2 linked regions of the Homo sapiens genome follow. Each later gene encodes a partner of the first gene's protein in a complex. Each region holds a gene or a part of one and is shown on either strand. Other genes may lie near its edges.

What was found. The genes of interacting proteins can lie anywhere in the genome.
Region 2: the proteins of NCS1 (region 1) and NMT1 are in contact, whole or in part, in a crystal structure (PDB 5O9S), measured with the Homo sapiens proteins. Residues at the interface, in NP_055101.2 of Homo sapiens: Gly2, Lys3, Ser4, Asn5, Ser6, Lys7, Leu8, Lys9; in NP_066565.1 of Homo sapiens: Tyr180, Val181, Glu182, Asp183, Asp184, Asp185, Met187, Phe188, Arg189, Phe190, Tyr192, Asn246, Thr282, Ala283, Gly284, Arg295, Tyr296, His298, Ser300, Lys310, Phe311, Ser312, Tyr401, Leu403, Ser405, Tyr420, Gly468, Ile469, Gly470, Asp471.

Annotation. Positions count from the first base shown.
Region 1 is NC_000009.12:130,174,596-130,183,331, reverse strand, and holds part of NCS1 (neuronal calcium sensor 1), read right to left. Parts: intron 1-8,736. UniProt on the Homo sapiens protein: Neuronal calcium sensor, regulator of G protein-coupled receptor phosphorylation in a calcium dependent manner. Directly regulates GRK1 (RHOK), but not GRK2 to GRK5. Can substitute for calmodulin. Stimulates PI4KB kinase activity.
Region 2 is NC_000017.11:45,106,089-45,109,516, reverse strand, and holds the end of NMT1 (glycylpeptide N-tetradecanoyltransferase 1), read right to left. Parts: 3' UTR 501-3,428; downstream 1-500.

The sequences.
Region 1 (8,736 bases):
TCCTGGGCAAGGAGCTCCCCCCCCCAGCCGCATGGTCAGGGCACCCGGAGCTGAGAAATGGTGACATCGCATCTCACAGAGAGTGGAACAGATGGAGAGACTGCGGCCCTGAGAGGGGCAGCCAGAGGCCACAGCAAGCCAGGCTGGAACCAGGACCCAACTCTCAACTCCCTGGCTGTCCCCCTTCCCCGACAGACTGTAGGTCAGGAGCACAGGCAGGTCCTGTCCTGGTCACCAGGGAGAGCAAACCACAGCACTGCAGGGAAAAACTCTTCGGAAAGATCCCAGCCTTCTGCAGAGGCGAGGACACCCCGGGCCACACACCCCACAGACACCAAAGACCACAAGATGTGGCCCAGACCTCAAGGAGCTAAAAGTCACGGGGGTCCCCTTGGCCACCATGCCCCCAAAACCCACACTGCACCTGTGAGGACTTGGTCTCTTTCTCTGTCGGACAGATACCTCCGAAGGCACCTGGGCTGAGCCAGGCACAGGGCAGGGCAGGATGGCCAGGGGCACTCAGTCCTCACCACCTTGTCCGTGACAAGGCTTCCCAGGAGCAGGGGTGGTGCCAGCACCGTAAGATGGCGGTACGTTGCTCCTAAGTTCCCAGGGCGGGAGGATGACCATTGAGATCAGCCCAGCGCCCACACACGGTCAGCACCTGCTGAGCCTCCACTGGGGTGGGTGGAGGCTGAGGAAGCCGTTGAGGCCAGGGCACAGCTGCGCCACACACTCCTATCAGCGCCTCTCCTCCTGCCGCCTTTCCACAAGGCCTCAACTCTGCCTCCTTCCTGGAGGAAGGCAAGGCGGAGGCTGCCCCAAATCTCCTGCAGGAGGCAGAACCTCTGGAACCAGCGGGAAGGATCCTATCTGCCACCAACCTCACACCCAGCCCAGGAGTCCGGGATGCCTGGCCAGTGTCTGATGCTCCAGCAGCGGCTTGGATGCTCCCAGGGACTGGGCGCTCCCTCCCCTTGGCAGGGAACTCCAAGGTTTTGAGGCTCACAGAGACGGTGGGAGGCAGGCGCCGGGTGGGAAGGGCGTGGCTCTGGCAACATAAAGATCTAAGCCTGAACCCCGACTGGCCATCGATTGGCTGGCTGGGGGGACTTGGGCGTGTCCCTGAACTTGCCTGGGCCTCCCTTTCCTCATCTGTAAAATGGGTATAAGGGTCCCTACTCCCAGGGCTTTGGGGAGAGGGCAGCACTCAGCACTCCTGGTCCCGAGTGCCCACTGGGTAAACGGTGGTCGTCATTGCTGTCATCTCCCCCCAACCACAATACTCCCCTACTGCCTTGGGGAGTGGCAGCTTATCACCTGGTTCCAGACCTGGCAGCTGAGCTCCCAGCCTTTGGCGCGGCTCCCGGCCTGTCTGTGCCTCCCTCCCCAGCGTCCCCCACCCCCAGGCACACCTACATTTACAACCTGTACAGAGCTGCCCTCACACACCACCACACGCGTGCGCACAGGAGTGCCCGGCTCACCCACTCCTGACACACGCCATGACCCCGTCACTCACGCTCGGAGCGTGCCCACGTGAATCGGGACTTGCCCACGTGCCCCGCAGCACCCGCCCTGCCTGCAACACCCACACCAGGCACCCGGGCCCGCTCACGCTCACCTGCACACCTCCATGGCGGCTCCCTGGCACCTCCACCAAGCAGGGGCCCCTCACCGCGGCCCAGGGCTTCAGTGTGCAGACTCCAGGCTGAGAGGGGACGGGGATCAGACCCCAATGGCACCACTCTCCAGCCGTGGGACCATGAGCCAGCTCTCATCCACTCTGAGCCTCCATTTCCTCATCTGTAAAAAGGGGACCCCCACAGGGCTCCTGGGTGGAATTGGTGAGGAACACACGTGAACACCAAGGACAGGCCTGGGTCACACGGAACATGCCTAATACCAGATTCTCACCGCAGTGACAGCCCCTGACCGTCCCGTGCTGCAGCTCGCAGATCCTCCACCACCACCAGGAGCAAAAGGAGGGCCGAGATGAGCCGCCAAGTTCAACGTCTGTTATTCCTAACCCCGCACACGGCTCTGTGTAGTAGAAGTCCCTTATCCCCAACCCCCAGATAAGAAAACTAAGGTATCGAGAGGCTAAGAACCATGCCTGAGGCTGAGAAGATCCAAGGGCCTGGGTCTTGAACACCACAGCCCAAGCACACTCCGTCCCTGGGGCCCTGACGTACCTTCCCCACTGGGTCTCACTATCTGGGAATTTGAACATGGTACAGAAAGGGAAACTGAGTCCCAGAGGGAACTAGTGACTCCAAAGCCACTGTCCAGGCCATGATGGTCCTGGGACTTAATCCCAGGCAGGCTGCTGTCCATCCTCTGAGCCCCTGGGCGCACAGGAGCCTAAAAGCCAGCCTGCCACAACCCTTCTCCCTCCCCAACTCACCAAGCCAGGAGCCAGACACAGAACAATCCGGCCACCAACCCAGCCGGGCCACCACAGAGGCCCTCCATGTTTGCCACTCGCTCCCAATTCAGCCAAGAGCCTGTGACAGCTCACTCTGTGATTGCCCAGGGGAGTGGCCAAGAACGGCTGTCCCTGATACAGCCGGTCCAGCAGCCTCCTTCCTGGGAGAGCATTTACTGAGCACCTACTACGTGCAGATCCCTGTGCAAACATCCCTGTCTCATGCGCAAGGGACCTCAGAGCTCAGAGACGTAAGGAGCTGGCCAGGATTGCCCAGCCAGGAAACAGCAGAACTGACCTTCAAGTCCTCAGCACCTGCCGTTCTGCCCTTGGTCAGAATATGACCCCAATCTCAAGTTACCTAGAAACGCCGCAACGTAATCTCTGACACTCTCTGCCCTGCAAAATAGATCACACACAGAATGTGAAAATTGATTCATCTTGTTATGACCATAATGATGATGTGCTTTTTAATTTATATTGGCTTTTTTTCTTACCAGAGTGCTAGAGATATCTGGGGCAAGATGAACCCCAGCAGAAGACCTCAGTGAAGAAGTCAAGACATCCCTAGGCCAGGCGTGGTGGCTCACGCCTGTAATCCCAGCACTTTGGGAGGCCAAGGTGGGTGCACCACTTGAGGCTAGGAGTTTGAGACCAACCTGGCCAAAATGGCAAGACCCCATCTCCACTAAAAATACAAAAATTAGCCAGGTGTGGTGGTGCACATTCTAATACGAGCTACTCAGGAGGCTGAGGCAGGAGAACAGCTTGAACCCGGGAGGTGGCGATTATAGTGAGCCGAGATCGCGCCACTGCACTCTAGCCTGGGTGACGGAAGTGAGATTCCATCTCGATAGATAGATAGATAGATAGATAGATAGATAGATAGATAGATAGATAGATAGATAAAAAGAAGGCAAGACATCCCTATCTGAACCCCAACAGCCAACTCACCTTGGCACAGTGGGAGGTGCCCTGACAGGAACAAAGCAGTTCCTGCCACATATTTGCTGTGTGACCTTGGGGAAGATGCTTCACCTTTCTGGCGCTTAATTTGCCTACTTGTAAAATGAGGGCATTGAACTACTTGGCCCCAAGAGTCTCCTCCAGCTGAAAGATACTAGGATTCTATTTCATAGTATTCAAAGAAATAAATGTTGACACAGTGAGCCACCTCTTTTCCTCCCCATAAAATTGGCAAGAAGTAAGGAAAACAGTAATACCCAGTGCTGGCAAGAATGCAGAGAAATAGGCACTCTCTCATCTACTTTTGCTGAAAATGTAAACTGGAACAGCCTTTCTGGAGAGCAATTCAACAATTTTTAATCAAAAGCCTTTCAAAACATCCCCAGCCTTTTAACTCCATAACCCCGTTCTGGGTTCTTATCTTCAAGAAAAGATAAGTGCAAAGATTTAGTGCAAAGACATTCATGCAAAGATGTGGTACAAAGATGTTCATCTCAGTATTTTCAATATGGGAGGAGGAAGCTAACTGTCCAATGACAGGAGATTAAATAAAATATGTTCTGTCCATATGATGCACCATGAAAAAAAATCATGCTCTAAAAGCATAGTTCATGATACGGGCAAACATTCAGAATGGTCAGGTTTTTTTAAGTCAGAAAATAAAAAGTAGATAATCCCAAATTTACAAGGTAATGAAAACTATGAGTCCAGGGACAGCGGCTCATGCCTGTAATCCCAGCACTTTGGGAGGCCAAGGTGAGTGAATCACCTGAGGTCAGGAGTTCGAGACCAGCCTGACCAATATGGTGAAACCCCGTCTCTACTAAAAATACAAAAATTAGCTGGGAGTGGTGGCGGATGCCTGTAATCCCCTACTCGGGAGGCTGAGACAGGAGATTTGCTTGAACCCGGGAGGTGGAGATTGCAGTAAGCCAAGATCGTGCCACCGTACTCCAGCCTGGGTGACAGAGTAAGACTCTGTTTCAAAAAAAAAAAGAGGAGGGAAGGGGAGGGAAGGGGAGGGAAGGGGAGGGGAGGGCAGGGGAGGGGAAAGAAGGGAGGGGAGGGGAGGGGAGGGGAGGGGAGGGGAGGGGAGGGGAGGGAAACCAAGTCCTACTGAGTCTTCCTCCTAAATATATCTGGAATCTGTCTTTCATGTCATCCCCACCGATACTCCAGTTCATCACCATGATCACCTTCGGTCTCATTACCACCCCTCTTCCCCGCCAGTCCATTCCGGGACTGCAGCCAACAACAATTTTTCTAAACCCAAATCTAATGTGTCTCCATCACCTCCCTTCCACGGCTCCCTACGGATCTCGAATAATGTCCAAATTCCTTCCTGTGGCCTCTCAGAGGGTGACATGGGCCCGGCCCACTCGACAGGACACCACCCCCCTCCACTGCCCATGCCTTGCCCCAAAGGGGTTTAAGACAGGCCTTGGGAGCAGCAGGAGCTGGGTCCGATCCCAAGGCCTCTGCCGGGGAAAAGGGCTTTCCCCTGACACGGGGTGATGGGAGAATTCTGTGGGGTGATGTAGGGAAGGGAGAAGCTGGGTCCCATTTAACCTGGAGCCCAAGGAGGCAGAAAGGGCAAAAAGAGCCTGTGAGGAGGAGGCTGGGCTCTGGGGCCTGGGTGAGTCCCTGCCATTCACCAGCTGCCCCTTCCCTCTCTGTACAAGGGGGTGGCCACAGGCCACCTGCCCTGGATGCGGAAGACTTGCACCCCAAGGACCAGCTGCTGCCAGGAAAGTTTTGAAAGGTTCCCCTCATGGCCAGGCGCAGCAGCTCATGCCTGTAATCCCAACACTTCAGGAGGCCGAGATGGGAGGAGATCACTTGAGGCCAGGAGTTCGAGACTAGCCTGGCCAACATAGCGAGATCCCATCTCTATAGAAATAAAAATATAAATAAATAAAGGTTCCCCTCAGAACCAGGCACCAAGCTAAACCCTTCATATGCCCCGAATCCTCCTCAACACTGAGGCCTTCCAAAACTGCCCATTTTCCAGAGGCGGAAAGTGAAGCCGGTGAGAGGAGGTTTGCCCAAGGAAGGGGCCAGAACCGCAGAACTCGCCCCTGAGCCCTCCTTCCCTCCCAGGGACTCTCCTGCCAAACAACCCCTTTGTCTTTCTGGCCCGCTCCCCGGACTGCAAAGCTTCTCCTGTTTAGATCCATGGAGTTGGAAGGCAGGTCTGAAGGATGAGCAAGCTGGTGCTCAGAGAGGCCAAGGGACTTCCCCAAGGTCACCAAGGCCGAGTGAGGACCCAGCCCCGCACCGCAGGGGATCGAGTCCTCTCCTAATAACACAGGTGATGTTTCTTGCCCAGATGCCCATCCCGATGCCGAGAGTCCACCTCAGTCTCTCCTGCTGCTGCTCTGCTCCACTGTCAGAGAAAGGAAAGGCCTCCTTGGTTCATGCCCACGCACACGGGATGTACAGGGACGGCCGAAGCCCCTCCCTTGCTTTGGTCCTTTCCTCTCCTTGTGGCTCACCCTGTGCCTGGCTGTGGGCCCTCCATGTCCCCACGCAGCCATCACACAACCCCCAGCTTTGTCCCAAGATGGTCTCCAGTGACTGCCTCCTGAAGGCAGCAGCTTGGCCCACCCTGGTTGAGCAGAGTTGGGTGGGGAGTGATGATCAGAGAATATTCCTCACCCTAGAGGAAGGGGCCCTCATGGGCCCCAGGACAGTCCACAACCAGAGACACCCAAGAACCCAACTGCTGACCCCAACCTGGAGCCAGGGACCCGTCCTCTGCTCGGGGTCACAGAGGCGTCAGCCGTGGGCTCCTGCCCTCCACCTGCTCCTGTGTGCCGGCACCATTCTGGGCATTAGGGAAAAGGCAGAGGAGAGTCAAGGTTGGCAGGCAAGGTCAAGGCAGAGCCTGGGCTGACCAAAGGCAACAGGGAGGAGGTGGCCACCCCTGAGTCCCAGACCGAGGGTCCCTGGGAAGGACCGCAAACATCATGGGGAGGAGAAGGAGAAGGGAGGAGGGCAGAGGTTGTGCCTCTTGGGCCTGGCTGGCTTGGGCCTGCAGTGGCCTCAGAAGCCTTTAAGGGGATGCAGCTCAGACCACCACAAATGGCTTGCACCCCCATGCTGGAGTTTTCGGATAACCCGGCTGCTTTCCTCCTGAGGCCAGGGATTCCATCTCTCTGGTCCACTCCTCTGTCTCCATGCCTGGCACACAGTGAGCACTTAATGAACAGGCCAGGGCAGCTTCACAATTCACAAGTGGGGCTGCGGAGGCCGCTACACGTAAGAGCAGGCCCCTGCTGGGATTCAGGCACAGCAGTCATAGATGTCACCTTCTGTGTGCCAGGCACAAAGACCAGAGTCAGCAAGATTCCTCTGTGGAGAGAAGAAATTTGCCCACAAAATACACATAAGCCCAGTTCAAGATGAAGCTGTATTGTATGGTCAAAATGATATATATTAAGGCCGGGTGCGGTGGCTCAGGCCTGTGATCCCAGAACTTTGGGAAGCCAAGGCAGGAGGATTGCTTGAGGCCAAGAGTTTGAGACCAGCCCAGGCAAAAGGGCAAGACCCTAACTCTACAAAAAAAATGTTTTTAATTAGCCAGGTGTGGTGTTGTACACCCATGGTCCCAGCTACTGGGGAGGCTGAGGCAGGAGGATTGCTTGGACCCAGGAGGTCAAGGTTTAAGTGAGCCATGATTGCACCATTGCACTCCAGTCAGGGCAACACAGCCAGACCCTGTCTCCAAAAAAAAAAAAAAAGAAAGAAAGAAAGAAAGAAAGAAAGAAAGAAAGAAAGAAAGAAAGAAAGAAAGAAAATGAACAAATAAGCATTAATTACGATCACTGGCATTTACTGACCACATACCCCACGCCACATATCAGGCCCCACACTGCACATGAGTTACCCTGTTGACTTCTCACATCCTCTGAGTTCAGGTGCCATGAGCACACCTATTTTGCAGATGAGGAAACTGAGGCTCAGGTAGGTGAGGGGACCGGCCCATCCCACAGCCGGGACACACGGGGAAGCCAACAGCCTCACCAGCAGGTTGGAAGAGAGTGGGCCAGACCTGAAAGAAACTGGGCCGCCCGCAATGCTGACTGCCACTGTCTAAGTCTTGGCTGCAGAGTGACCCTGTCCATCTCTCCCTAACCTGTTGCTGGTGGAAGGCTGAGGACTGGGTTAGGGTTTGAGCCAGGTGGAATCCCAGTGTGTCCAGTGAGGGCCACACTGCTGGGGCCTTTAGACACTCCTGCTTCCTCACACACACAGACCACCACAGACAGAGCCAGAGACGCCCACCAAGGACACTGCCCAGCACCGACTCGGACGTGGACCCATGGCTCCCCTCTAGGCCCCCTTGGCACTGTGGCCAGCTATGCATGAGGTGGGCTAGGACCCCCAGCATACACTGGAACTGTGGTCTTCAATCCGGGCTCCCCAGGACCACCATCTGCAGCACAAACACGTGTCAAGGATGCAAATTCCTGGGCCCCAGCCAGACCTAAAGAATCGGAAATCCGGGAGGGCAGCCCAGGTACCTTCATGTTTATTAATCAACCAGGAGATTCTGACATTTGAGAGTCCTTCCTGGGGCGCTTCTCTTGACCCCATACACAGAATCCCCCAGAACAAAGAGCAGATGGCTCCACTCCCCATCAGAAGGAAGCCCATCTGGGGGCGGGAGAACAAGCTGGAAGCTTTCTCTGCTTGTCCTGTTGGGAGACTTTTCATTCTGTGAACCTACTAAAGGCCAACACATGGGGGGAACACAGCTGTGAGCTCCACACACAAGGGCCTGCACTAGGGAGCTGACGTCAGCGCGGGAGGCAGACAGGAGGCCAATGAACCCACCGCCACCTCCAACGGCCCACCCCTAATAAGGGCTTCGACAGAGGAAAAGTACCCAGGCCAACTCTCTCTCTGCCCAAAACTGTTCCACGTCTCCAAAGGCCTTTAAAAATAGCCCAGCCCAGCACCACAAGGGCCAGTTCCTAACAAAGCTTTGTTGACTCAACTTCTCTTAAAGTTGACAGATCTGCCCGGAGGAGGGGGCCGGACAGGACTATCACCCCAGGCCCTTCCCATTTAGAATCCACCATCATGGGCTTCTAGCAAAAGCCAGAAAAAGACACCCAGCAGAGCTTTTTTTTTTTTTTTTTGGAGACAGAGTTTCCCTCTTGGAGCAATCTCACCTCACCGCAACCTCCGCCTCCCAGGTTCAAGCGATTCTCCTGCCTCAGCCTCCCGAGTAGCTGGGATTACAGGCATGTGCCACCATGCCCAGCTAATTTTGTATTTTTAGTAGAGATGGGGGTTTCTCCACGTTGGTCAGGCTGGTCCACCCGCCTCGGCCT
Region 2 (3,428 bases), on another chromosome or scaffold:
GGAAGTCTTAAACACAGCTACTGGGGCCCAGCAACTTGCCATGTTAAAATGCACCCCTAGTGACTCAAAGAACCACCCGGCCAGTGGTGCAGGAGGAGAGATGTGGCACCTGGGCACAGTGGGAAGGCACGGGGCCTGCACCTCCACCAGAGGAGCCACTGCTGACCTGGACCAAGGGGGCTGCTCTGTGCCCAGCTAGGGAAGCCTGGGCCGGCTCCTGTGCTGAGGTGCTCAGGTGCTGGCTGAGAGCCCAGTTGCTGCTCTAACTTGGAGTGAACCTGGGTCAATAGCAGCTCGTCTCTGGCGGGTGGGAAGGGTCTGACAACACCAAGTTTGCCCTGGAAGAAGGGCAGCCTTAAAGGAAGGCCTTTGGAAGCTGGCCTGGTGCTGTGGGCTTGAGGGACTTTGTGTCCAAGCCCTGTCGTCCTGGCTCCAGCCTAGGCTCCAGCACTCCATTTCTTCCACTGCCACCTGCTGACCAGGAATACCAGGACAGAAGGTTTTGTTCAGCTGCTTTCTTTATTAGAAACAAGTGAGATGTATTGAGCAGAACAACAATGCATTTGGTATTTCCTCCCCGACCCTGGAAATGGATGCCCCCCCACAGCCCAAAGAAAAGCCAAGACAAAAAGGTGAAGCTCCCCCGTCCCTGTTCCCAGACATGGCACCTGCCTGCCAGCCAGTCAGTATTTTTTAATTTAATGGAATGAAATTGTCCTCAACAGCCTCCGTAGGTGTAGTCGGCTTGCAGGCCCGCCTTCATTTTGCAGCAGAGTAAAACTGAAGCCTCAGGCCTCCCCTGGTTCTGGGGAAGGTGGGCCAGGCCATCAGAAGGCTGCCTCACAGGTGGGTAGGCACTGACGGGAGGGACACTCCTGCTCCCTCCCCTGATCTAACATCTGGTTCCCCTCCTTCTCCTAGAGTGCAGCTCCATGCAGTTGTCCAAGGCCTTTGGGCCCTTAGGTTGGTTAAATGCTGGTCGTCTTTGGGGAAAGAATTCAGGACCACAGGGACTCCCCTAGGCTTCTGAGAGCCAGCAAGTAGGGGGGCGACAGCAGTTAGACAGGAGTTGTGGGGAAGGCCTGACATTTTCCATAAACCTGGTGTTAAAGTAGCTGGGTGTGGGCTGGCCTTCAAATAAGACAGAAGCCTCTTCAGAAATAGGCATGTGTGGGGAAACGAGCCCTATACAGGCCTCGATCCGGAGTGGAGGCCTCCTACTCAGCTCTCTCCCTACACACAGACTGGAGTCCGTGGTCAAATGCAGAGTCAATCCAAAGGCAGGAGGTAAAGGTCGTCTTTGAAACATGGCAGCTGGGAGGACTGGGTGGCAGAGGGTGGGGGCCAGGCCCAGGGAGGCCTTCCAACAGCAGTTGCTCGAGGACGGTTAGCGTGAAGGCCTCAGGGTCCTTCCTTTGCTTGGTTTGAGACAGCCATGGCGCTACCACACTGCAGGGCTCCTGTGGGGAGGCCCTGACCCCCGGGATGGTGCTCTCTGAGCTGAAGTCCCAGAAGGGGTTGAATGAAGAACGCAGGGACTACTGGGACAAAAATCAGATGAGCAGCAAGCAGCCCACAAGCCAAACCCTGCACACCTGGGCAGAGTTCTCACCGCAACATAAAGCAGAGTCCGAGGAGCCGGCCACCTGGTTTCAGTGAGGGAGATGCTGGGGCCTTTGCCAGGAGATCTGTTTCTTCCAGAACAGCCACTGGGGCCTCACCGTTTCCATTCCATGACCTGGGTCAACCGAAACAGAGCTCACTCCAGAGATCCGCACAGCCCAAATCTCAGAGGCAGCTCAAGCTGGGACCTGGCCCAGAACAGATCAAGACTAGGACAGGGAGCCTTTCCAAGTTCCAGGTTCCCCCAAGGTAGGAAAGACTTGGGCACTTTGTCCTTTGATATCCTCAAAGGTCTGGACAGGGTGAGCCACTCTGGGGCTTGAGGCACTGTGCAACTGTTGTCTGTGGGGCTGCAAAGCAAGCCCCTGCCTCTCCGACTCCTCCCACCTGTGGAATGCAGTGCGCATCTTGCTAAGAACAGCAGCTTCTTTGGTCTCAGTTTCTTGGAGTCAAGGAGCAAACGTCAGTCACGATTGCTGGGGCCTGCAATTTGCAGCGCAGGAACAATGGGAAAAGGGAGGGCCCTGCAGGCCCCTGATGAAAATCCACCTTAGTGGAGTTGCTGGCTCTAGCAGCAGTCTGCAGAGCGGGCAGCATTCCCACGGGTGGCACGGCCCCCATCCCAAGCATACGATGTCTTCTGGTTTTGGAAACTCTGCAGAATTAGCCTCTGACAAACCACACCAAAACCCACAGCCTGCAACAAGCCCCTGCTGGCCTGTAGAAAGTGGCTTCGGTGAGTGGCACAGGGCTGAGCCTGGCCTCCTGGCTAAGGCTTCATTCCTGTATGAGCGGAGAGGTGACGGCAGCAAGGAAACCCGCACACCACACGTCATGCTACCTCCTTCCCACCACTTGCTTCTCTCTAGAGCAAAAATTACATCCAAGCCTGGAAGTACAATTTCACAGCCCAATTTTGCCCGGTCACTTGGCTGAACACCACTCCAGAATGCCTACATCGACAGCCATGTGACCAGAGGCTTGATTACGTTTTGGGAAACTGGCAGCACTGACAACCATCACTACCACAAAAATCCACAAAACAGCATCAGCGAAAATCAGACTCAGACAATGGAGATGGGAAACCACTTCTGTTGCCAAGTCCAGATCTGCCTCTAATCACTTCTTGCTACCACTTGCAGGCTGTATCTTGGAAAGGGGCACAACAAGAAATGGCTAATGGGTTGGAAGGCACAGGCCAGGGGCTGGTGGCTGAAGGGGTCTGGGTATTGGCCCCACGCCACTCCTGCCTAGCCACCCCAGGGACATCAGGGTGCTGGCTCTTTGCTCTAAGATGAGCTAAGCAGGGCTTACACTGATAATGGTCTCCAAAGGTCCCTGATGTTACAAGGAGGTCCAAGGGCCTCTTCAAACTGCATCATCCCAGGCAGTGGAAAAGCAAAATCTCACAGGGGACTCATCCCTATAAGGTTGGCAACAACTGGCTAAAGAGCCCTTTTAAATCAGTTGGCAGGATGACTTCCTACAGGGAGCAGGCCAAGGGGATGGAAGAAAGGACTCAATCAATGAGGTCTGCTTCTGCGGACCGTCCATTGCTTTGTCTCAGAATGCAGGCAGGTCTGGCCCTGCAGGAAAGTCCCTGCCCAGGGTCAGCCCCAGCCAAGAGCTCCACGTGCTATCCCATGAGATCTGAGCCTGTTCCATCTTCCCTTCCTTCTCAAAGCCAGTCATCCCAGCTGATTCAGAAGGGGAGCTGGATGAGGTTCTCCAGATCCTCTTTTTCCCCATGATAAGCCAATGTCTCCTCTGGAGGAAACCATGAACTGTGCCAACGCGTCTGTCTG